7 linked regions of the Homo sapiens genome follow. The protein of the gene in region 1 interacts with the protein of each later gene in a pairwise test. Each region holds a gene or a part of one and is shown in the gene's direction. Other genes may lie near its edges.

Region 1 (2,763 bases):
CATCAATGAGGACTTCCGGACAGAGTCACCCCCCAGCCCAAGCAGTGATGTTGAGGATGCCCGAGAGCAGCGGGCACACAATGCCCACCTCCGCGGCCCACCACCAAAGCTCATCCCTGTCTCTGGAAAGCTGGAGAAGGTGAGGACCGGCTCTTCCTTGTGGGCCTGGGTAGAACGGGAGTCCTCGCTTGGGAAACTGGAATTTAGAAGCTTATATAGAGGAAAGAGTGTGGGCTCCAGATTCACCAGACCTGGGTCCTAATCCCAGCTCTCTCTCATTCTGGATGTGTGACCTCAGGGAAGTCACTTAACCTGAGCCTCAGTTTCTAGAACTGACATGAAGGTCAAATAATGTATAGCATAGTGCCTAGCACGTAGCATGTACGCAGTAAGTGCTAGTTGCTTACGTTCTGGTTATTCTGCACCAGTTATACGTTTGACTTTGGGCAAGGCCTTTAACCTTGCTGAGCCTCCATTTCCTCATCTGTAATATGGGGATAGTGATCATATTTAGATAATGGAGATAAACTTTTCAAATTGCTTGACACAAAGCTGACACTGGTGGCCACCTCCACCAGTGGCCGCAATTGTTATGAATATATGGGCACTGGGGACCCAAGACGGGAGGGCAGGGAGTGTCATAAGGGCTCTGCAAGATTGGGCAGCTCATCTCCAGTGTCACATGGCACCTCATTTCAGAACATGGAGAAGATCCTGATCCGCCCAACAGCCTTCAAGCCAGTGCTGCCCAAACCTCGAGGGGCTCCGTCCCTGCCTAGCTTCATGGGTCCTCGGGCCACCGGGCTGTCTGGGAGCCAGGGCAGCCTGACGCAGCTGTTTGGGGGCCCTGCCTCCTCCTCCTCCTCTTCCTCCTCCTCTTCAGCTGCTGACAAACCCCTGGCATTTAGTGGCTGGGCCAGTGGCTGCCCATCAGGGACGCTATCCGACTCTGGCCGAAACTCACTGTCCAGCCTGCCCACCTACAGCACCGGAGGTGCCGAGCCAACCACCAGCTCCCCAGGCGGGCACCTGCCTTCCCATGGCTCTGGGCGAGGGGCACTGCCTGGGCCAGCCCGAGGGGTCCCTACTGGGCCCTCCCACTCAGACAGTGGCCGGTCCTCCTCCAGCAAGAGCACAGGCTCCCTAGGGGGCCGTGTGGCTGGGGGGCTTTTGGGCAGTGGTACTCGGGCCTCCCCTGACAGCAGCTCCTGTGGGGAGCGCTCACCACCACCCCCGCCTCCACCTCCTTCGGATGAGGCCCTGCTGCACTGTGTCCTGGAAGGAAAGCTCCGAGACCGGGAGGCAGAGCTTCAGCAGCTGCGGGACAGTCTGGACGAGAATGAGGCTACCATGTGCCAGGTGTGGTCAGAGGCAATGATGGGGAAGGGGCATGGCAGGACATCCCAAGGCCCTGGGATGCAAGCGGCATTTCCATTTTGGCAGGGAACGGGGGTTGGGTAGTTGTAGTTGTGACCCCCCTGCCCTCCCCACCAGTTGTCTGGTTTAATGTGTGGAGTAGCCAGGTGTGGTGGCTCACATCTGTAATCCCAGCACTTTGGGAGGCCGAGGTGGGCGGATTGCTTGAGCTCGGGAGTTTGAGACCAACCTGGGTAACATGGGGAAACCCCATTTCTACTAAAAATAAATTAGCTAAGTGTGGTGGCATGTACCTGTAGTCCCAGCTACTTGGGAGGCTGAGGTGGGCGGATCACTGGAGCCCAGGAGGAGGAGGTTACAATGGACTGACATTCCACCATTGCACTCCAGCCTGGGCGACAGAGCAAGACTCTATCTCAAAACAAAAAACAAAACTTGTGGGGTGGAAAGGAGTCAGAGTGCATGGATTCAAACCTCCCACTGCCAAATACTAGTTTTTGGGCTTGAGCAAGTTGCTTAACTTTACTCAGCCTTTATTTCTTCATCTATATAGGGATATTTCTAGCTTCGTAGGATTATTATGAGGATTAAATAAGGCAAAAGGTGTAAAGTGATTAGACTAATGCCTGGTACCTAGGAAGTGCTATATAAATGCTTGCCTTTTTTAAAATTTTTTATTATTTTTTATTTTTAGTAGAGACAGGGTTTCCACCATGTTGGCCAAGCTGGTCGCGAACCCCTGGCCTCAAGTGATTCACCTGCCTCGGCCTCCCAAAGTGCTGGGATTACAGGCGTGAGCCACTGCACCCGGCCAAGTGCTTGCTTTTTTTATTTTTTGAGACAAGGTCTCATTCTGTCACCCAGGCTAGAGAGCAGTGGCGTGATTTCAGCTCCCTGTAGCCTCAACCCCCTGGGCTCAAGCAGTCCTCTCACCCCAGCCTCCCAAGTAGCTGAGACTACAGGCGCATGCCACCACACCAAGCTAATTTTTGGTCTTTGGAGAGGCAGGGTTTTGCTGTGTTGCCTAGGCTGGTCTCGAACTCCGGAGCTTAAGTGATCCACCCACCTCGCGTGAGCCACCGAGCCCGGTCTGCTTGCTCTTGTGTTTGTTTCTATGATCATCATAAAAGCAGTTAGTATTGTTGTTGCAATTACTATTGTTGTTTAATGGAATCCACCCTTCCTGAGCCCTCGGAAGTGGGCTGCCAGAGCAGACACTGAGTGGGGAGTTGGGAAAACTGCCCAGGAGCCAGGTCTCTCTTCTCGCCTGCAGGCATACGAGGAGCGGCAGCGGCACTGGCAGCGAGAGCGTGAGGCCCTGCGAGAGGACTGTGCGGCCCAGGCACAGCGGGCACAGCGGGCCCAACAGCTGCTGCAGCTGCAGGT
Region 2 (3,500 bases), on another chromosome or scaffold:
ACTCGTGACCTCAAGTGATCCGCCTGCCTTGGCCTCCCAAAGTGCTGGATTACAGGAATGAGCCACAGCACCCGGCCAGAAGCCACCTTTTCTAACAGCTGTATTTCATTTGTATTCCACTTTAAGGCTACAGCTTTTTAACCTGTTTCTTATTGATGGATATATAGGCTAATTCCAATTTTGTGATATTGGAAACAATGCTGTGGCTGGGCGTGGTGGCTCATGCCCGTAATCCCAGCACTTTGGGAGGCCAAGGTGGGCAGATTGCTTGATGCCAGGAGTTTGAGACCAGCCTGACCAACATGGCGAAACTCTGTCTTTACTAAAAATACAAAAGTTAGCCGGGTGTGGTGGTGCATGCCTGTAGTCCCAGCTACTTGGGATGTTGAGGCATGAGAATCGTTTGAACCCAGGAGGTGGAAGTTGCAGTGAGCCAAGGTTGTGCCACCACACTCCTGCCTGGGTGACAGAGTAAGACTCTGTCTCAAAGAAAAAAAGTAAGGGAAGAGGAGGGAGGGAATTCTGGGCAGAGGAAGTGGCATCAGGAGTAAAGGTTGGGATGGCTTTGTCCTGTGTGAGGAATTGAGGGAGGGTAGGCTGTGGGCCAGGCTCCCTCTCATCCCTGCGCAGGCAGGGAGGGTGGGCATCCCTGTTGTGCACACAGGGCACTGAGGCCTGGAGAAGGGAAGCAGGCTTTGCTGGACATAGGCCTGTGAGAAGTAGACCTGGAGCTCAAACCTGGCCTATTTAGAGCCAGGATGCCATCCTGCCACTGCCGAGGGAGGCAAGTGACATGTGTCGAAGCAGACGCAGGGGCAGAGGAGACTGGAGACACAAAGACAGTGGAGGGGAATGGGGAAATGACACGTGTTCAAGATCTGTGTGAGAAGCCTTCCGTTTCAGGCTGAGGAGCTCAGTGATCATAGGGAGGCCCTGAAAGTTGGAAATCTGGGCTCAGACCTCATCTGCCACCTGATGTCTCTTCTGTGATATTCAATTTTTTTTTCCAGAATCGTTGCAGTGTGCCAGTAGATCAGGCCTCTGAGTCACTGCTGAAAAGCAAAGCCTGCTTTGGAGCTGAAAACCTCATGAGGGTTCTGGGGAACTATTGCCGCCTTGGTGAAGTGCGCACCCACATTCGTGTGGGTGTTGTGGGTAAGACCTGCTGTGTGGTCATGGGGCTCAGGCTTCTTTCTTGAGCGGACACTTCGCTGGGGGAAAGGATCCTGGGAGCTTCATTGTCTTTTGCGGGGAGAGAGGAGTGGTTCAGGAGAAGGGTTTCGTGATTTGTAACTTGGATGGGTGGGCATCACTGCGTATTGAGTATTAGATTCATGGAGCAAATACAGGGTGCCAGGCTTGGACTTGGTACCATCTCATCCTATCAGAGCTATGGGAGGATGGGGTGACCGTCTACCTTTTACGGATGAGAATTCTGAGTGAGGCTCAGAGAAGGGCAAAGGGACTTTTGGAGCCCAGCCCTGTGCAAGACAAGGCAGAGCTGAGGATCAAAACCTGGGCCTTTCTGGAGCACAAGTTTCTGAGGGAGGGATGATGGGAATGGAGTAGGGAAATTGAGAGAGGCAGAGATAGATCACCAGAGAAAGAATGTGAAGCCACGTGAGAAAGACATTGGAGAGAGAGCTAGACACTGAGAAGGTATAGGTATGCATACCAGGATAGATACAGAAGAAGACACAGAGAACGCACTGGGAAGCCAGATGGCAGGATTGGTGGGGAATGGAAAGAGGAGACAGATTTACATGATGGAGGCATGTAAAGAGGGAGATACAATCAGAAACACCAAAAGGGACATAGAAACAGACATGCATACAGAGATCTGCCGAGGGAGACATAGGAAGGGTAGAGATAACCCATGTATGTAGAGAGGCAGACATGTTTTCTCAAAGAATGAGAGAGAAAAACATACTACAGGGATAGAGACAGATTCAGAGAGAGACATACATGGAAGCAGACTGGACAAGGCTGTAGATACAGAGGAACACATACACATAGCTCTTAAGTACACATACAGATCCACAAACACATACACAGACCCACGCTACAGACCCAGAGATCCAGAGGAGGCACATCTAGCGAGACAGAACCACAGTCAAAATGCATGTAGACCAAGCCCTTCCCACACACACCCACCCCAACGCTGCTCCCCCAACGCGCATAGAACCACAAGGAGGGCTGGATGTAGCAGCTCATTCATGCCTGTAGCCCCAGCACTTTGGGAGGCTGAGGCGCACAGATCACTTGAGGTCAGGAGTTTGAGACCAGCATGGCCAACATGGCGAAACCCCATGTCTACTAAAAATACAAAAATTAGATGTGTGTGGTGGCGGGCATTTGTAATCCCAGGTACTCGGGAGGCCGAGGCAGGAGAATCGCTTAAATCTGGGAGGTGGAGGTTACAGTGAGTTGAGGTTACAGTGAGTTGAGATCGTGCCACTGTTGAGATCCAGCCTGGGCAACAGAGCGAGACTCCGTCTCAAAAAAAAGAAGACACGCATGTGCCCACATACACTTTGACCCTCGAACATAATCACATACCTAGAGTTACAGAGGGACACAAATACCAGACATGTCACTATGAGGCAGGTATGTGTACCTGTACAGAGAGAAATAGAGACATACAGAGAGGAGGTTAAGGAGGCGCAGACAGGGAGAGAGTAGAAGAGACACCGTGAGACACATACAGAGAGGCATCCATGAAGTGACCAGCCCACAGAGATGAGGAGCATGGACAGAGGCTGACAGGAGTTGGCATGGAGGGAATTACAAATAGAGGCAGGATTGGTGGGGTGGAGAGAATCAGAGAGAAAAGAACAATGGCCAGAATGAGAGACAGACAAATTGGCAGAGAAAGAGGTGCTTAGATACAGAGACACAGAGAGAAACAAAGATAAGATAGAGAAAGAGACTGAGTGGGAGAGATACAAGAAAAGGAAAAAGTGGTGATACTGAGAATGGGAATGACCGAGAGAGAGAGAGAGAGAGAGAGAGAGAGATGTGTAGAGACTTCCATGCATGGTGATAATTTAGAATGAGAATGACCTAGAGAGAGGGAGGGGGGAGAGAGGTGTGCAGAGGCTTCATGCACGAGAGGTATACTTAGACATATACCTTTTTTTTCTTTAGGCAATCAGCTTTCTCGGGTTGAAACAAGCATATGCTTGAGACAATAGTACACACATGTAAATTGAGCACATACAGAAAGAGAACGGTGAGAATGAGGCCCAGTGAGGGGAAACACAAAGACATCCACAGGCTGAGAATGGCTGACAGATGCACAAACAGCAAAATACACACCTCAGGTAGACAGCTGCACAGAGAGACTGGCATCTGGAGATGACCTCCATCCCCATCCATGGAATGATACACCCAGACAGGTTGTTCTCTGTTTCTTAGACATTTCTCGATGTCCACCTTCTGTTGGATTGTGCCACTGAGGCCTTGCATTGAGGACCTCTGCCTGGCTGATTGTGAGTGGG
Region 3 (3,500 bases), on another chromosome or scaffold:
TGTACACCACCTGTGAGTCACGTAGCGGTCATCTCAGTTACCAGATCGAAGAATCATAGTATGTACAGGGTTCAGAACTAGCCATGATTCAGGCATCCACCTGGGGTCTTAGAACATTTCTTTAAGTTAATTGTGGCTTTTGTTTGTTTGTTTTGTTTTTTGAGATGGAGTCTTGCTCTGTCGCCCAGGCTGGAGTGCAATGGTGCAATCTCAGCTCACTGCAAGCTCCACCTCCCGGGTTTATGCCGTTCTCCTGCCTCAGCCTCCCAAGTAGCTGGGACTACAGGTGCCTGCCACCATGCCTGGCTAATTTTTTTATATCTTTAGTAGAGACGGGGTTTCACCGTGTTAGCCAGGATAATCTCAATATCCTGACCTCGTGATCTGCCTGCCTCGGCCTCCCAAAGTGCTGGGATTAAAGGCATGAGCCACCGTGCCCGGCCAAGTTAATTGTTTAGATATACGCTCTTTTTTCAGAAATTTCCTACTTTCATTCCCTGATTCTCTCTATTCACTATCAGTTTTAATTTTCATAGCATCAATTTGTAATAAACGATCGAAAAGTTTTACCCCATGTCCTTGTCTTGGCCAATTTTTCCCCCTTTGGATCATTTACATCAAAACCAAATTTTTGATATAGCCCAAATCCCCAAATGTCTTTCTGCTTTTTCTTGCCATGTTTAATTTGAAACAAATAGAAATAAGCCATATTGTTTTGAACTCTTTGCATTTCTTTCTCCAAATCCTTTCATTTGTTCTTGTTGTGGTTCACTCTGTTTGTTGCCAAGGCTGGAGTGCAGTGGTGTGATCTGAGCTCCTTACAACCTCTGCCTCCTGGATTCAAGAGATTCTCCAGCCTGAGCCCCGTGAGTAGCTGGGATTGCAGGTGCTCACCACCACACCCAGCTAGCTTTTGAATTTTTAGTAGAGGTGGGGTTTTGCCATGTTGGCCAGGCTGGTCTCAAACTCCTGACCTCAAGTGATCCACCTGCCTTAGCCTCCCAAAGTGCTGGGATTACAGGCATGAGCCACTGTGCCTAGCTTGAGTCCTTTTATTTGTTTGTCTGTTTTATTTCAGGATGGGAAATGCGACTTGAAACCCAGTGGTCTATACTTCAGCAGGACTTTTTGAGGGGTCAGACATCCATTGGGATACAATTGGTAAGATTTGCATAGGATATTTTTTATTTTCCACCCTCAGAGAAAATCAGGAATTCTGTTATGGGAAGTCAGCAAAAATAAGAGATATTTGAGAGAAGTTGCATACACATGAGAGGGAGCAAAGAATTTAGGGATGCTCCAATTGTGAAACTTGTTTCTTTGGAGCTTTCACACATTCCCACAAGTGTAACTAGACGTTGAGTTTTGTTTTGGTGTTTTTTTGAAACGAGATACTGCTCTGTCACCCAGGCTGGAGTGCAGTGGTGCAATCATGGCTCAGTATAGTCTTGACCTCCTGGGCTCAGGCGATCCTCCCACCTCAGCCTCCCTTGGTAGCTGGGACTACAGGCATGCACCACCACACCCAGCTAATTCTTCAAAATTTTGTGGAGACAGGGTCTTACTGTGTTTCCCAGGCTAGTCTCAAACTCCTGTGCTCAAGTGATCCTCTGCCTCAGTTTACAAAAGTGCTGGGAGTACAGGCATGAGCCACCACATCTGGCTTAGACTATGAATTTTTTTTTTTTGGTCGAGACAAGGTCTTGCTGTGTCACCCAGGCTGGATTGCAGTGGCACAAACATGGCTCACTGAAGCCTTGACCCCTTGGCTCAAGTGATCCTCCCACCTCAGCCTCCTATGTGGTTGGGACTACAGGAACACACCACCATGCCCAGCTAATTTTTTGATATTTTTTATAGAGATGGAGTTTTGCCATGTTGCCCAGGCTGGTCTCTAATTCCTGGGTTCAAATGATCCACCCACCTTTGCCTCCCAAAATGCTGGGATTACAAATGTGAGCTACTGCACCCATCTAGACATTGAATTCTACAGAAATCTGTTATTATTATTATTATTATTATTTTGAGACGGAGTCTCGCTTTGTTGCCCAGGCTAGAGTGCAGTGGTGTGATCTTGGGTCACTGCAACCTCCGCCTCCCAGGTTCAAGCGATTCTTGTGTCTCAGCCTCCCAAGTAGCTGGGATTACAGGCATGTGCCACCAAGCCCAGCTAATTTTTGTATTTTTAGTAGAGACAGGGTTTCACCATGTTGGCCATGCTGGTCTTGAACTCCTGACCTCAGGTGATCTGCCCCCCATCGGACTCCCAAAGTGCTGGGATTACAGGCATGAGACACCATGCCTAGCCAAGATTAAAGTAGATGGCACAACATTCTAGAATAAGAGTTAAGTCATACCACTTAAAATAAATCTACAGGGAAGGACCTGAATGCATGTAATAAAAATGGCATCAATTATAATCACCATTATAATGTTTCTAGCTTCAGATGGGTATGTTCTGTTAATATGTTTGAGAAAAATCCTTAAATCATCATCATCCCTTCAACAGGAAGGAAAACACAATGGAAGGGAACTCTGTGACTGTGAGCAATGTGGAGAAGTCTTCAGTGAACACTCATGCCTTAAGACGCACGTGAGAACTCAAAGTACAGGGAACACTCATGACTGTAATCAGTATGGAAAAGATTTCCTTACCCTGTGTGAGAAAACCTCTACTGGTGAGAAACTTTCTGAGTTTAATCAGAGTGAAAAAATCTTCAGCCTGACACCAAATATTGTATACCAGAGAACTAGCACACAAGAAAAGTCATTTGAATGTAGTCACTGTGGAAAATCCTTCATTAATGAGTCATACCTTCAGGCACATATGAGAACTCACAATGGAGAAAAACTCTACGAATGGAGGAATTATGGGCCAGGTTTTATTGACTCTACAAGCCTTTCTGTGCTTATAGAAACCCTCAATGCAAAAAAGCCCTACAAATGTAAGGAATGTGGAAAAGGCTATAGATACCCAGCCTACCTCAGTATTCACATGCGAACCCACACTGGGGAGAAACCATATGAATGTAAGGAATGTGGGAAAGCCTTCAATTATTCCAACTCATTTCAGATACATGGAAGAACTCACACTGGAGAGAAACCCTATGTATGTAAGGAATGTGGGAAAGCCTTCACTCAGTACTCGGGCCTTAGTATGCATGTACGATCTCACAGTGGAGACAAGCCCTATGAATGTAAGGAATGTGGGAAATCCTTCCTTACATCCTCACGCCTTATTCAACATATAAGAACTCACACTGGAGAGAAGCCTTTTGTATGTGTTGAATGTGGGAAAGCCTTTGCAGTTTCCTCAAATCTTAGTGGACATTTGAGAACTCACACTGAAGAGAAGGCCTGTGAGTGTAAGATATGTGGGAAAGTATTTGGGTATCCCTCATGTCTTAATAATCACATGCGAACGCACAGTGCCCAGAAACCATACACCTGTAAGGAATGTGGGAAGGCTTTTAACTATTCCACCCACCTTAAAATTCACA
Region 4 (3,455 bases), on another chromosome or scaffold:
GGGTAGAGAAAATAAGGGGAGGTTTGTAGAAAAACATAACTACACAAATTTTATATACAGGTTTGACAGTGAAGGGGAGGACAGAGAAACCTGGAGGGAAAGAGAGGGTGGAAAGAATGTGTTTTTCAAGACACGAGACTTGAACAAGTTTAATTGCTGTTGGAAAGGAATAGGCAGAGAGAGAGAAAGAGAAGGAGAGGGAGAGAGATTAAACATCCAAGATAAGAAAGTGGGAAAAATGAATAATTGATAGGTCAGGGTCACCAAGAAGGCGGGAGGTGATGGGAGTCTTGGCCCAGGGACCGGTCACTTTCACCTAGAGAGAATGGTGAAGCTGCAGGTAAGTTTCGCGGTAGCAGTGAGAGTGTTGCTAACTGGTGACAGCATCTGCTTCCTTGATAATCTGGATGGTGAGACCACCTGATGAGAGAGAGTGGGGGCGATGGTGCTGCTGAAGATTTCAGGACAGTTTTGAAGGTTTGAACAGCTGCTGGGTGAATGGAGAGAGGTGACTAAGGAAGCAGGCAGACTGGCGGGTAGCCTGGGAGAGGCCGGAAACCACGCCATCATGGGGCACCCATTTCACAGACCGATGTGTTTCTGTGGCATCCTGAACACATGTTCAGAAAATGTGGGCAGGTAGATGGATGAAAGGTGGGGAGATTTTGTGGGAGTCTGTGACAGAATGGGAATAGTGAGGGGAGTTGGAGGTATTGGTGAAGAAATGGTTGAAGTGATAGTCTTTGGACTCAAATTGACTCTGAAAGGCAGTGTGGATGGGAGGGGCTGACAGGGAGAAGCTGGGGATTGGGAGTGTTGATGTTGAAGAGCAGATGTGATGGGGAATTGAGTGCCGGAGCCCATGGCCTCAGAATGCCTGGCTTAAATAGAATCTTTCAAAGATGGGACATTTGCAGGTGGAGAAGGCCCAGTGGAGGGGCTGTGGGACTGGGTGACAGAGGGGAGTGGAGGGGTGAGCTGGGCTGGCCCAGGAGGGCGCTTCCTGGCTGCCCTGAGATGTCTCGGCACTGGTTGGGGCTTCAGGACCAATTTCATTATGATCTGACATTGATTTAGATGGCAAGGGGCGATTACTCAGGCTTCTCTCTGTGTTCACAGTTGCTAGAGAATGAAATACAAGCCCCAGAGTCAAAGTTATTGATTTCTTTCTCCAGATTGGATAATCTAATATCAACCCTGAACCATTTCTCAGTATGGAAATATCCATGCCAGTTTCCATTTCTAGAAGAAAAAGATGTCATTGGGTCAATTAAAAAGGTACATTATGATACAAGGGTACAGTGTCAAATGATTCTCCAAGAGGCAATGATGGCAGTTGGCCCTTTGAAGGACTAAGGGAGTTTGTTCTCCAGGGGAAGGGAAACCCCAGCTGACATTTCGGAGATAGTATTTTTTCCTCCTGATTTTGAAAGGATAAGCAAATAGTCTTCATTGGAAAGTGAGAATTTGGGGGTGATTTGAGGTTGGGATAGGGAGAAGGCTTTACTTTTTATTTTATACATTTGTACAATGAAATTATTTTTATGGTGATAAATTACTACTTTTATAGTAAGACTTTTTTAAAAAAACAAACAGATGAAAAGGAAAGAAAGGAAAGGAAGGGCAGGAGGAAGGAAGGAGAGAAGGAAGAAAGGAGGGGAGGGAGGGCGGAGCTGTGGAATTAGAGCAAAGGGAAATGTAGAGAGAGATAGCAAAATGAAATTAGGCAAAGAATTTTTCAGAAATATGGAGGAGGAGGTCGGGTGTATGTGATAAGAAACAGACTCACAACGACCGCAAGTTAACTGACTACTCGAAGCCTAGCTTTTCTGGGTCCATGGCAGTAGTTCCGAAACTTCGCTGCACATTAGAATTACTGGGGGAGATTTATCAGCTCTGACAGCCAGGTGTACTCTGACCTGATGAAATCAGGAGGTCATGGGCTGGGAGCAGGCATCATTGTTTTTTAATGATCCCAGGATGTTCCCTTGTGCAGCAAAGTTTGGGAACAGAAATTTCTCCTATGGGTTTGCATAAGGACAGGTCCTTCGGTGCAGTGGGCATCCCTTCAACAGTGTCGCCCCTAGAGAGAGTATCTGATGCTGGTGGAAGCTCTCTTCAACACACTCTGGGGCACTGCACTCAGCTGTGGTTCAGTGCAAGCACATCTGCGATAGGGGTTTCAGGTGTGTGTGGCTCTAATGAACTGGCTTGGCTCAGGGGTAGAATTTAGATATTCTAGAATAGTGGTTTTCAAGCTGGTTCTGTGAAGCCCTGGGGAACTAGAGAGGGGGTCCCGTAGGCAGAGGCTACCCTCTGTACGTCAACCAGGGCTGCGCTAATTAGATTGCTTCATATTTTGGGCTTCCAGGTAAGAAATTGTTTGGAAAAAAACTTCTTAAGATAGAGAGATGGCTCACTCCTGTCATCCAGCATTTTGGGAGGCCAAGGTGGATGGATCACCTTAGGTTGGGAGTTTGAGACCAGCCTGACCAATATGGAGAAACCTCATCTCTACTAAAAATACAAAATTAGCTGGGCGTGGTGGTGCATGCCTGTAACCCTAGCTACTAGGGAGGCTGAGGCAGGAGAATCACTTGAACCTGGCAGGTGGAGGTTGCAGTGAGCTGAGATTGCGCCATTGCACTCCAGATTGGGCAACAAGAGCAAAACTCCATCTCAAAAAAAAAAAAAAAAAAAAAGACAGGGAATCATTGATCTAGAATAGGGCTTGGTCAACTGTGGCCTGAGAACTAAAAATAGTTTTCTATTTTTATATGGTTGGAAAAAAATTCATGACACATAAAAAATATGAGATTCAAATTTCAGTGTTCATACATAGAGTTTTACTGAACACAGCCATTCATTTATATATTGTCTATGGCTGCTCTGCAGCAGAGTTGGATAGTTGGGATAAAGACCATATGGCCGGCAAACCCTCAGATATTTACTGTCTGGCTCCTTGCCGAAAATATTTGCCAACTTCTATTCTAAAAGAATCAGTGGAAGTCCTTGTTTTTTTGTGTGTTTGTTTTTGCAGCTTGGTAATATGCACCTCACCATTTCTATCAGAAAATTGAGATGTACTCTGCGTCATCTATACAAACAAATATGCTCTGTGTGAGTGTGTGTGTGTGTGTATGAGAGAGAGAATTTACTGATTTCTAGACCTGTTTTCTCACTGTCCTCATTTCTGCCTTCTTGCCTTGTAAGATAAATATGTATCATTATTTTTTCTCCCTTGAAATAGACCTTATTTTTTACAGCAGTGGTAGGTTCACAGCAGAATTAAGCAGAAAGAACAGAGAGTTCCCATATACAACCTTCCCCCCGAAAAGAGCCTCCTTTCCTGTCAACATCCTTTATCAGAGTGGTACATGTGTTACAACTGATCAACCTACAACGACACATCACCATCACCCAAAGCCCATAGGGTACATTAGGGTTCATTCTTG
Region 5 (3,500 bases), on another chromosome or scaffold:
GTTGTAAGTAAAATTTAAATGTTTACTTTTTCTTTCTTTCTTTCTTTTTTTTTTTTTTAAAGGCAAAACGAACATTGAAAGCCCAGAAACTCCAAGAGGAATTAGCCTCAGGAAAATTAGTGGAACAGGCTGTAAGTAATGAAAATGATCAATAAAAAGGTTTTATTTCTTTTAAACAAAGAAATGAAAATTGAAACAAGAATTCATTTTATAGCTCTTCAGTTAGGAAGAGAGAAATGCTATTGGGGGAAAAATAAAACTGATACTTTGTATACAGTTCATAGTAATATAAATTGATGCAGTCAGTTTGGGAACAATATTGCCACTATTTATATTTAGACACACACAAACATTTACTTTTTCAAGTTAAATTATTAAAGCTATCCATCCTAAAGAATTTTCTAGAGTTTAGAAAAATCATGATGCATAAAGATAGTACAGCATTTTTCACAATAGTAAAGAAATTGGAATAGCTTAAATGTCCAGGAACAGGGAATTGGTTAAGTGCATCTGCATGGTGTAATGCTGTGTAGTTCTTAAAATGGCATTTCTCAAGACTTCATTAACAACACTGGTTAACACTTGTATTTGAATAATACATGAAAAGATAGTATAATATTATCACACAGAAAAAAAGACCAGAACACTAGTTTTTATTTAATGTAGAATTTATGAATTTTTCTTTCTATTTCTTTAGTATTTTCTGCATTTCCCACAATGAATATGTATTAGTTATATAACTGGGCAAAACATTTTTTATATGAATGAAAGGTCTATTGCAGCCAGTTTTTTTTTCTTTTTTAAAAATCCTTGTCAATAGAGTAAATATATTATGCATATTAGAGTTGTCAAGTTTCTTTTTAACAAATCTAGGCACAAATAAATAGTAAACATTTATAGTTTTTTAGTTTAAATTTCTAAAAGGGACTCTAAACCATGTATAAGTAACAAAGCAAACAGAACTTGAAATAATTACCAAGTAAGCAGTTACCGAGTTACTAAGGTAACCTACCAGGCAAGTTAACATTGTAAGTTACCAGATAGGTGTTTAAAATCCATCTCTGGCCGAGCACAATGGCTCACACCTGTAATCCCAGCACTTTGGGAGGCCGAGGCAGGTGGATCATCTGAGGTCAGGAGTTCGAGACTAGCCTGGCTAACATGGTGAAACCTCATCTTTACTAAAAATACAAAAATTAGCTGGGTGTGGTGGCGAGCACCTGTAGTCCCAGCTACTCGGGAGAATCGCTTGAACCCAGGAGGCAGAGGTTGCAGTGAGCCGAGATCACGTCACTGTGCTCTAGCTTGGATGACAGAGCGAGACTCTATCTCAATCAATCAGTCAATCAGTCAATCAATAACAAAATCCATCTCTGCTCCATGAGACATACATGCTCTTAGAAAAGTGAATTTGCCGGCCGGGCGCGGTGGCTGACGCCTATAATCCGAGCACTTTGGGAGGCCAAGGCGGGTGGATCCCAAGGTCAGGAGATCGAGACCATCCTGGCTAACACGGTGAAACCCCGTCTCTACTAAAAAATACAAAAAATTAGCCAGTCGCGGTGGCGGGCGCCTGTAGTCCCAGCTACTCGGGAGGCTGAGGCAGGAGAATGGGTGAACCCAGGAGGCAGAGCTTGCAGTGAGCCAAGATCATGCCGCTGCACTCCAGCCTGGGCGACAGAGTGAGACTCCGTCTCAAAAAAAAAAAAAAGTGAATTTGCCTCTCTGAGCTGCAGTTTAGTATGTCTGAAATAGAAATGATAACACCTACCCCCAGGAAGCTTATATACATATCACATAGTAAACACTGGGTAATTAGTAGCTATTATTGTTGTGATTATTTTTATTTATTACTAACTTTGGGAAAAGAAAAAGGGCCTGTTTCTTTTGTTCTAATGTATTCTCTGTTGTTTGTTGTAAACGTAATGTAATTTATTTCCCCAGTAAGGATACTTAATGTATGTAAGGGGCTAATGATTTTTGCCCACTTGGATGCTTGGATTATTTTTTTTTTATATACTTTAAGTTTTAGGGTACATGTGCACAACGTGCAGGTTTGTTACGTATGTATACATGTGCCATGTTGGTGTGCTGCACCCATGAACTCGTCATTTAGCATTAGGTATATCTCCTAATGCTATCTCTCCCCGCTCCCAGGATGCTTGGATATTAAGATGAACCACATACAGTAGATTTAGAGACTTAGCTGTCACTATAGAAATGTATGTAAATGTCTTTGGTGAACTAGCAAATAGTGGGAACTCAAAAAAATTATTTTTTACAAAATATTTATATTTCTAATTTTGAAAGTAACACATATTAAGTGGAAAAAAATTAGAACATAATATAAAAAAGAAAATATCCCTGTGTTAATTGTGAACATTTTGAAGTAGGCCTTTCCAGGTCTCTCTTGTCCACATATACCTGTTCATGTGTGCTAGAATACAAAATGTTTCTTACATGAATCCATCTTTATATATTCATTTATTACCTTCTTTTTTAATTTAACAACATAGAGTACAGTGGGAACGTGTTTTCTGTCTATATTTATAGACCTATAGCATCATTTATTTTTGTATGAATTCACATGGCTCAAAAATTAAAACAATTTAAGAAGATGCACAGCGAAGTCTCTCCACCCCTGTTTCTATCCACCCTAACACTAAACTTCCCCTCGCCCCAACTCTTTTGTGTATGTGTGTGGCTCCTTTCAGACTGTCTTGAATAAATACAAATACAAATATATACCCTTATCCTATCTGTCTCTCCCCTCCCCTTTTTTTAATCAAAAAAGTTAGGAAACGATACATACTTTTCTGCCCCTTGGATAGAATCACTTTTAATGGCCGTTCAGTGTTCCATGGAGTGCAATACATTATATAACCAGTGATCTATTAATTTGATTTTTTCCCAGTGTTTTGAAAAAACATTGCACATATACAACACTGCACATCACATTCTTATACATCTTTATATAATTGACATGATACTAGGATAACCTTCTAGAAGTGTATTTCAGTGAGTTTGTATTTCTAAAATTTTTATGACATATCACTTAGCCATCATTCAGAAAAGCCATGCAGATTTATGCTTCCATCTATATAGTATATATACATACACGTGTTTCTGCATCTCCTCACTAATGCTATAATGTATTCTCTTTTTTTTTAAGTATTTTTAATCTTTGAAGCCTTTATGAAGGGACATGATGAAATACCACGTTAGTGTAGGCATTCTGTGGAGTTAGAAAGTATTCTGACCAATTGCTAGCGAAGAAAAGTGTATCCTTGTGACAAGGAGTTTGGCCTCTCCTTAAATTACAATACTGTGTCACTTGTAGATTTTTTTCATTGCCCAAACTTCACTTTGGCTGTGAAGACATGAACCCAGTAATATTTTCTTTTTGGACTTACTAGGAAACTAGTAACGTTTAATGAATACAGTATGTCTGAAGACTAACACATTTAGAAATTAATATTTATTGGGTACTTTGGACATCT
Region 6 (3,500 bases), on another chromosome or scaffold:
TGTCGCGACTCACAACTGAATCACAGAGTAGGGAGGTGTCTTAGCGATGACTCAGTTCTCCCCTGCATTGATGCATATTAATGTTATTCCTCACTACCCACAGCCCATCTCATCTGGAGGTTTTATTCTTCTTGATTGTCTCAGTGTCAAGGAGTTCACTGCCTCATGAGGCAGCTCAGGAACTGGGCTATAAATAATGACTCATTGTTGTAACATTGATTTCTCTCCTCACTCCTGGAATCTCAGAAGAGTAAAGGGAGAAATAGGGCCAGTGTTGTACAATTGATTCCCTCTTTCTTTGTAAAGGCTGCCAGGTGACTTGCTAGGAAAGAGAAACGGGAGGAAGGGGCTAGCATTTAGAGTGAATGTTTGCAACGGGAGAGGCACTTTGTTAGGTGCCTTATATTTGCTGCTGTTTATTTTGGTCTTCACAAAGTTCTTGTACTCATGAGTAAACTAAGTCTCAGGGAGATCAAAAGCCTTATCCAGAATCACCCAATAAGGAAGGTGGATTTAGAATTTGGGATTTTATCATCTTAGTTCAGTTCATTTTACCATTTCTGGGGAACTTGCTATGTGCCAGGCACTGTGTTAAATACTTCCCACACATATTTTTGATAATACTTGAATCAATCTGGCATTAATATACCTATTTGACAGGTGAAGAAATGGAGGCTTACAAAGTCAAGTGACTTTCCCAGGGTGAAAAAACTAGTACATGGTATGACCAGGATTCAAATCTAGTTGTGATTGAACCCAAATCCTGTGTCTTTTCATAGCCCCCTGCAGCCCCAGGATTTAGCTTCCAAATACTAAGTATGACAGCACATTGGGCATCAGCCACACACCTGGCTCTGGCCTAAGCTCTGGGATACAAGGCGATGGATGAGGTATACCATGCCCCCTAGTAATGAGCTAAGTGTTAGTTGCTATGTTGCAGAGCAGGGTCACATTAACTAATATTTTAAGCAGTAACGATACAGTGCTTTGGGCGTTGACATAAGGAAGAGATGGACTGGGAGTTGTTTTTTGTTTTTAAGAGGGAAGAATTGAAAAAAGTTAGTGGATAGTAGACTTTCAAAAATGTTTGTCCATTAGAATGGAGTTGTATGTATCCAGAGGGTAATATTCCCATAGGCATAAAATGTTAAGAAGACTGACTCATACCTGGAATTTGGAAAGGTAGCCTTCCCAGATATTTTGGGAACTTCTTTGTTGAGAGAGAGAGAGAGAGATGCCCAATATGACAGCACATTGGGCATCAGGCATATGGCTGATCCTGGGGCCGCAGGGGACCATGAAAAGACACAGGATTTGGGTTCAATCATGAGAGAAAGGGAATCCTTTCCCTAGCTTCTTACACAGAGAATCTGTAGGACCTGCTGGAATCACTAGTTGGTTTTGTTTCCCAAGAGGAAGGTTTTCTAAGGCACACCCCTACATTTTTTTTTTTTTAAATCAGCATTCACTGTAAGAAAAAAAATCGACATAATATTCTCATAATGATTTCTCCTAATAAAGATGGATATTGTTACAGTTACACTACAGTAATCTTATGACTCTCTGTATACACTGAATGCCATTCATTCATTCATTCATTCCTAAGAAGTTACTGAATGTATAGCACAGAGCTTGGTGAGGCACTCTGGGGACATGCAAAGAGTCATGGGGCTTCTTCTGCGGAGATGCTCACAGTATGCAATGGAGCATAATGTATACACCAAGTAGAAATTGAGATAGGATGTGGTAAATGTCTTGAAAGTGGTGTAAGGAGAGTGCTGTGGGAATTCCGAGGCGAAAAGATTACCTCTGACTGTGGATTTAAGAGCTTCATGGTTGGCCCGGCATGGTGGCTCATGCCTGTAATCCCAACACTTTGGGAGGCCGAGGCAGGTGGATCACCTGAGGTCAGGAGTCCAAGACCAGCCTGGCCAACATGGTAAAACCCCATCTCTACTAAAAATACAAAAAATTAGCCGGGCGTGGTGGCATGTGCCTGTAATCCCAGCTACTGAGGAGGCTGAGGCAGGCGAGTCATTTGAATCTGGGAGGTGGAGATTGCAGTGAGTCGAGATCTCACCATTGCACTCCAGCCTGGGCAACAAAAGTGAAACTCCATCTCAAAAATGAAATAAAATAAAATAAAAATAAAAATAAAATAAAATAAATAAAATAAATAAAAGCTTCATGGAAGAGATGGTCTCTGAACTGGACCCTAGGGACAACTAGGATTTGGAAGCCCTGAGCTAGGTGGGAAGGCACACCACACATATATAGCAAAGTACGGAAGTCTCATTGGGCTTGGGGTTTGATGATGGGTTTAGACGCAGCTCTGACACTGACTTGGCTGGGTGCTCTTGGACAAGCCACTTAGCCTCCTCAAGCTGCCTCATTAGTGTAATTGGGGTAATACCTCCTTCATAGGGTGTTACGAGGATTAAAGGATATAACATGTTGAGCATGGAGCATGGTGCCTGGCACATAGTAAGTACGAAATGAGCATTAGTTAGAGCTGATTCTGAATCTACCATTTCCTTTTGATGTGCTTATCTTTCAAAAGTGGTGGTTTCCTTGCTTGTGGCCCCTGTCCACTTTGGTCACTGTTGGCTGGGGCCCGTGGAGCTGTCCAGAGGGGACCGGGGCCAGTAGAGTAGAGGACAGTATTTGTAGAGCAGGCATTTCTTCTGAGGTTCCTTGGGATCCCCTGAGCTATGAAAGCTGGAAGCAGTTGAAAGTTTTCAGGGAGAGGGATGCTGGAGTCTCAGAACTTTAGAGGTGCTGCAGGAGTCAGTTCTGGCAGTGAGAGAACACTTGGGCGGGTTTCACACACACACAGCACTTGAGCCAGTCTTGGGCAGAAGGGGCCTCACTTCCAAGCACAAGGAGTGTTAACGAAAAAATTATTAACATGGTAAGGAAGACTTTATTCAGGGCCATTGCAGTAGGCATCCCAATAGTGGGGAGAGATGGGGCTCAATTCCAAGTACAAGAAGAACAAGTGGGCACTTAGCCAAGGAGCAGGTGGGAGGGGGTCAGAGGATAGAAAATTACTAAGAGGAGACGTCAAGGTTAGGGGGATTCTTGCTGAAGTCAGGCCAAGGAGCAGGTGGGAGGGGGTCAGAGGATGGAAAATTACTAAGAGGAGACGTCAAGGTTAGGGGGATTCTTGCTGAAGTCAGGCCAAGGACTTAGACTATCAGAGGTGGTGGGTGAGGAATTTGATCAGATATTGAAGGTGGGGGATTCTCACTAAACTGACTTAGCAGGATTCTTGCTAAAGCTGAATTCTGCCAGGATGGAAACGGAAGCCCAGGGAGAGGCCGGGTAGAGAAGAGGATTCAGAGGAGCCTGACTAAAGTTTGGTCAGGGAGAGAGTCTGTCAGGGGGATCAAATGAGGAAAGACAAACTGGTCTAGAGAAAGTGGCTACTGACCACCATCACCCCTTATAGAACGTCTGTCTGTCCCCATCAGCATGAGTTCTTTTGCTACATAGAGTGT
Region 7 (2,966 bases), on another chromosome or scaffold:
TGTCCCTGCCATGGTGCGGGTCATTTCAGCCGGTTCTCAACAAGACTCAGGGTCCGGCCAGCCTGTGACTGAATGTTACCTTGAATCCTCTCAGCACCCTTTATAATCAGGAGAGGAGATAACTGCCGTTAAGAACAGCCGTTTGGAAAGGGGGTGTTGGGCTGATGCTCCTGGTCAGCCCATTCTCTGTGGGCACGGCAGGATGCCCATTCTCTGAGGGCACAGCAGGACGAGTTGCGCTGGGGCTGCTGCCTTACACAACCCCCTGCTACAGGAGGTGGGCCTGGGGTGGCTCAGGACTGATCAGGCTCAGCCATCTTTGGTTTGCCAACATGGGGTTTTAGAACCCAGCAGGTGTTGGGCCTCTTGTGCTGGGTCAGCACCCCAGGCCCCGAGCAGAAGTCAGAGCTGGCCAGTGTGGGCCTGACATCCTGTCTGGCTGGGTGCTGTGTGTCCGTCTGGATCCTGGTCTGTGGCCTCCTGTGATCCAGCTCTTTGTGGTGGGGTCACCCTGTCTTTGTTGACTGGCTGGGTGCTGTGCGTCCGTCTGGATCCCAGTCTGTGGCCTCCCTGTGGTCCGGCTCTTTGTGGTGGGGTCACCCTGTCTTTGTCAGGCCTGGGCTATTGCTTTGCTTTCCTGGCACTGTGTCAGCTCAGCCCCCACAAAAGGGGCCTCTTGGCAAAGGGGTGTTTTCCTGTTCTGTCTTCAGAAGCCAGCAGTGTCTGAAACTTGCCTCTGTCTGGTGGGACCTCACCAACATCTTCCCATGTCCTGATCCTTCCCCGTTTTAACCAAGTCTCCTCAGGGTCTGGCTTCGGAGAACGGGGTTGGTGGGGTGGTTTATGCAGCTTCTTTACTCCGTGATGCAGCAGGGCTGGGGCTGCCCACGCTTGCCTCTGAGCAGCCAGTGCACATGCCTTTGAGGCTCCGTTCTTGGTAGAACTCTCCCGTTGTAGGCATCTGGCCTACTCAAGCAGGAGGAGTTTTTAGACGGACGTAGGGCAGCTCCCGGTATGGAAGGGGAAGTGGACCGACGGGGCAGTAATGGGCACCTCTGCAGGTCAAGGGCAAGGAGAGGGGCCGCCTCGCTTTGCACAGGGGCCTGACCTGGGCCCTGTCTCCTGCCTACTGTGTGCCTGTCAGTCCCAGGTGCTGGGGAGAGGGTGATAGATGAGGCCATGCTTACGGGTTAGTGGGAAGATGAGACACAATATTTACTGTCAGGTGGTGAAAAGCACATGCAGCAGGGATGGGCCAAAGGAGACTCAAACTCGGGCTGGGTGTCCTGGGCAGGATGGCACTCTATGGAGTCATTGCATCGTCTGCTGTGTGCTGGCCCCGTTTGGCCAGAGTGCACTCAAGTGTCTGCTTCTTTCTTTAAGGGAGCAAAGCTTGTATTGGCTTGCAATTCAGCAGCTGCCTACAGACCCTATAGAAGAACAGTTTCCTGTCCTAAATGTGACCCGGTATTATAATGCCAACGGGGATGTAGTGGAAGAGGAGGAGAACTCTTGCACCTACTATGAGTGCCACTACCCTCCCTGCACAGTGATTGAGAAGCAGGTGGGTGTGCTGCAGTGCGGTCGCGTCCCTGGCACCTCTACCCTGTAGCCCAGCCTTGGTTTGGGATCTTGCCCTCCACCGCGGGGTCCCATTCCCCAGAGACCGCTTAGCACCTCTTGGGCTTTTCCACCAGAGTGGTCTCCCTTTGCCCTTGTGCTGGCCTGACCAGGGCCCAGGCCCTCCAGCCTTGGTACGTGGTGTTTTGCTGGGTCCGTCAGATTGTCCGTAAGACGCAGCCTTTGCCCCACACTGCGTCCCAGGCATGATGGTGAAGCCACAGGTGTTCTGTATTTCAGCTCCGGGAGTTCAACATCTGTGGGCGCTGCCAGGTGGCCCGGTACTGCGGCTCCCAGTGCCAGCAGAAGGACTGGCCTGCCCACAAGAAGCACTGTCGGGAGAGGAAGCGTCCCTTCCAGCATGAGCTTGAGCCAGAGCGATGACGGGCAGGGGAGCCACACATACTCACAGCCCCCGGGCTCTACCCTGGGCACAGCAGAGACAGACTGGTGGTTGAACCTGGAGGTGCCAAAAAAGCCAGCTGCGGGCCCAGGACAGCTGCCGTGAGACTCCCGATGTCACAGGCAGTCTGTGTGGTTACAGCGCCCCTCAGTGTTCATCTCCAGCAGAGACAACGGAGGAGGCTCCCACCAGGACGGTTCTCATTATTTATATGTTAATATGTTTGTAAACTCATGTACAGTTTTTTTTGGGGGGGAGGCAATGGGAAGGGTAGAAATTACAAATAGAATCATTTGCTGTAATCCTTAAATGGCAAACGGTCAGGCCACGTGACTAAAAACTGTCCTGTTGTCGAAGCTTCTCCCCTGGGCCGCCGGGAGCCCCGTGGAGCGCGGCCTGCACGGGAGTTGTGTCCACAAAGGCAAAGTAAAGGGGTGGAATCATCTGGCCTCTCGGACATTCTCTGCTCCGCCTCCCTCTTGTGCTGCTTAGGGTGAGGTCATTTTGAGTGGAGCCGAGTCCTTGTGGGTGAGGCAGGAGGACCCTTGTTCCTGGTGGGCCCTTCTGAGGAGCGGGTGAGCTCAGACCTTCCTGAGTCCAGCAGGGAGTATGAGTGAGACTCTGTCCTTGTCTTGCGGCAGGAGTGGTGGGGTTGCTAAGTCAGCTGCCCGCTGTTTTATGGGGAGTAGGATGCTCTCGCCCCTGACATTGGTTAGTTCTTGCCTGATTTATGCATGAAGTGGCTGGGAGCTCAGCAGTGAGCTTCTGCCCAGAAGAATCCACAGGGCATGTTCAGCAGGCCTGCTGCAGATGGTGGAGGGGGCTGGCCAGCCAGGGTGAGGTGAGGGTCTCACTTCTCCGTCCGTCTGCAGGGCTGTGGTTTCCAGGATAGCCCTCCCTCTCCTTGGGGAGCCCCAGGTGTCTGGGGCTGGTCAGCATCTTG

What was found.
Region 2: the proteins of LZTS2 (region 1) and GNL3L interact in binary tests that used the Homo sapiens proteins (3 or more experiments, as listed by UniProt).
Region 3: the proteins of LZTS2 (region 1) and ZNF426 interact in binary tests that used the Homo sapiens proteins (3 or more experiments, as listed by UniProt).
Region 4: the proteins of LZTS2 (region 1) and FAM124B interact in binary tests that used the Homo sapiens proteins (3 or more experiments, as listed by UniProt).
Region 5: the proteins of LZTS2 (region 1) and SLU7 interact in binary tests that used the Homo sapiens proteins (3 or more experiments, as listed by UniProt).
Region 6: the proteins of LZTS2 (region 1) and GEM interact in binary tests that used the Homo sapiens proteins (3 or more experiments, as listed by UniProt).
Region 7: the proteins of LZTS2 (region 1) and ZMYND19 interact in binary tests that used the Homo sapiens proteins (3 or more experiments, as listed by UniProt).

What each region holds. Positions count from the first base shown.
Region 1 is NC_000010.11:101,002,808-101,005,570, forward strand, and holds part of LZTS2 (leucine zipper putative tumor suppressor 2), read left to right. Parts: coding exon 1-139; intron 140-699; coding exon 700-1,359; coding exon of another isoform or gene 1,360-1,461; exon of another isoform or gene 1,462-1,669; intron 1,670-2,650; coding exon 2,651-2,763. UniProt on the Homo sapiens protein: Negative regulator of katanin-mediated microtubule severing and release from the centrosome. Required for central spindle formation and the completion of cytokinesis.
Region 2 is NC_000023.11:54,547,219-54,550,718, forward strand, and holds part of GNL3L (guanine nucleotide-binding protein-like 3-like protein), read left to right. Parts: intron 1-1,010; coding exon 1,011-1,155; intron 1,156-3,500.
Region 3 is NC_000019.10:9,528,646-9,532,145, reverse strand, and holds part of ZNF426 (zinc finger protein 426), read left to right. Parts: intron 1-1,078; coding exon 1,079-1,161; intron 1,162-2,509; coding exon 2,510-3,500. UniProt on the Homo sapiens protein: May be involved in transcriptional regulation.
Region 4 is NC_000002.12:224,381,653-224,385,107, reverse strand, and holds part of FAM124B (protein FAM124B), read left to right. Parts: intron 1-3,455.
Region 5 is NC_000005.10:160,409,082-160,412,581, reverse strand, and holds part of SLU7 (pre-mRNA-splicing factor SLU7), read left to right. Parts: intron 1-62; coding exon 63-131; intron 132-3,500. UniProt on the Homo sapiens protein: Required for pre-mRNA splicing as component of the spliceosome. Participates in the second catalytic step of pre-mRNA splicing, when the free hydroxyl group of exon I attacks the 3'-splice site to generate spliced mRNA and the excised lariat intron.
Region 6 is NC_000008.11:94,255,820-94,259,319, reverse strand, and holds part of GEM (GTP-binding protein GEM), read left to right. Parts: intron 1-3,500. UniProt on the Homo sapiens protein: Could be a regulatory protein, possibly participating in receptor-mediated signal transduction at the plasma membrane. Has guanine nucleotide-binding activity but undetectable intrinsic GTPase activity.
Region 7 is NC_000009.12:137,581,581-137,584,546, reverse strand, and holds the end of ZMYND19 (zinc finger MYND domain-containing protein 19), read left to right. Parts: intron 1-1,383; coding exon 1,384-1,564; intron 1,565-1,860; coding exon 1,861-2,004; 3' UTR 2,005-2,466; downstream 2,467-2,966. UniProt on the Homo sapiens protein: May be involved as a regulatory molecule in GPR24/MCH-R1 signaling.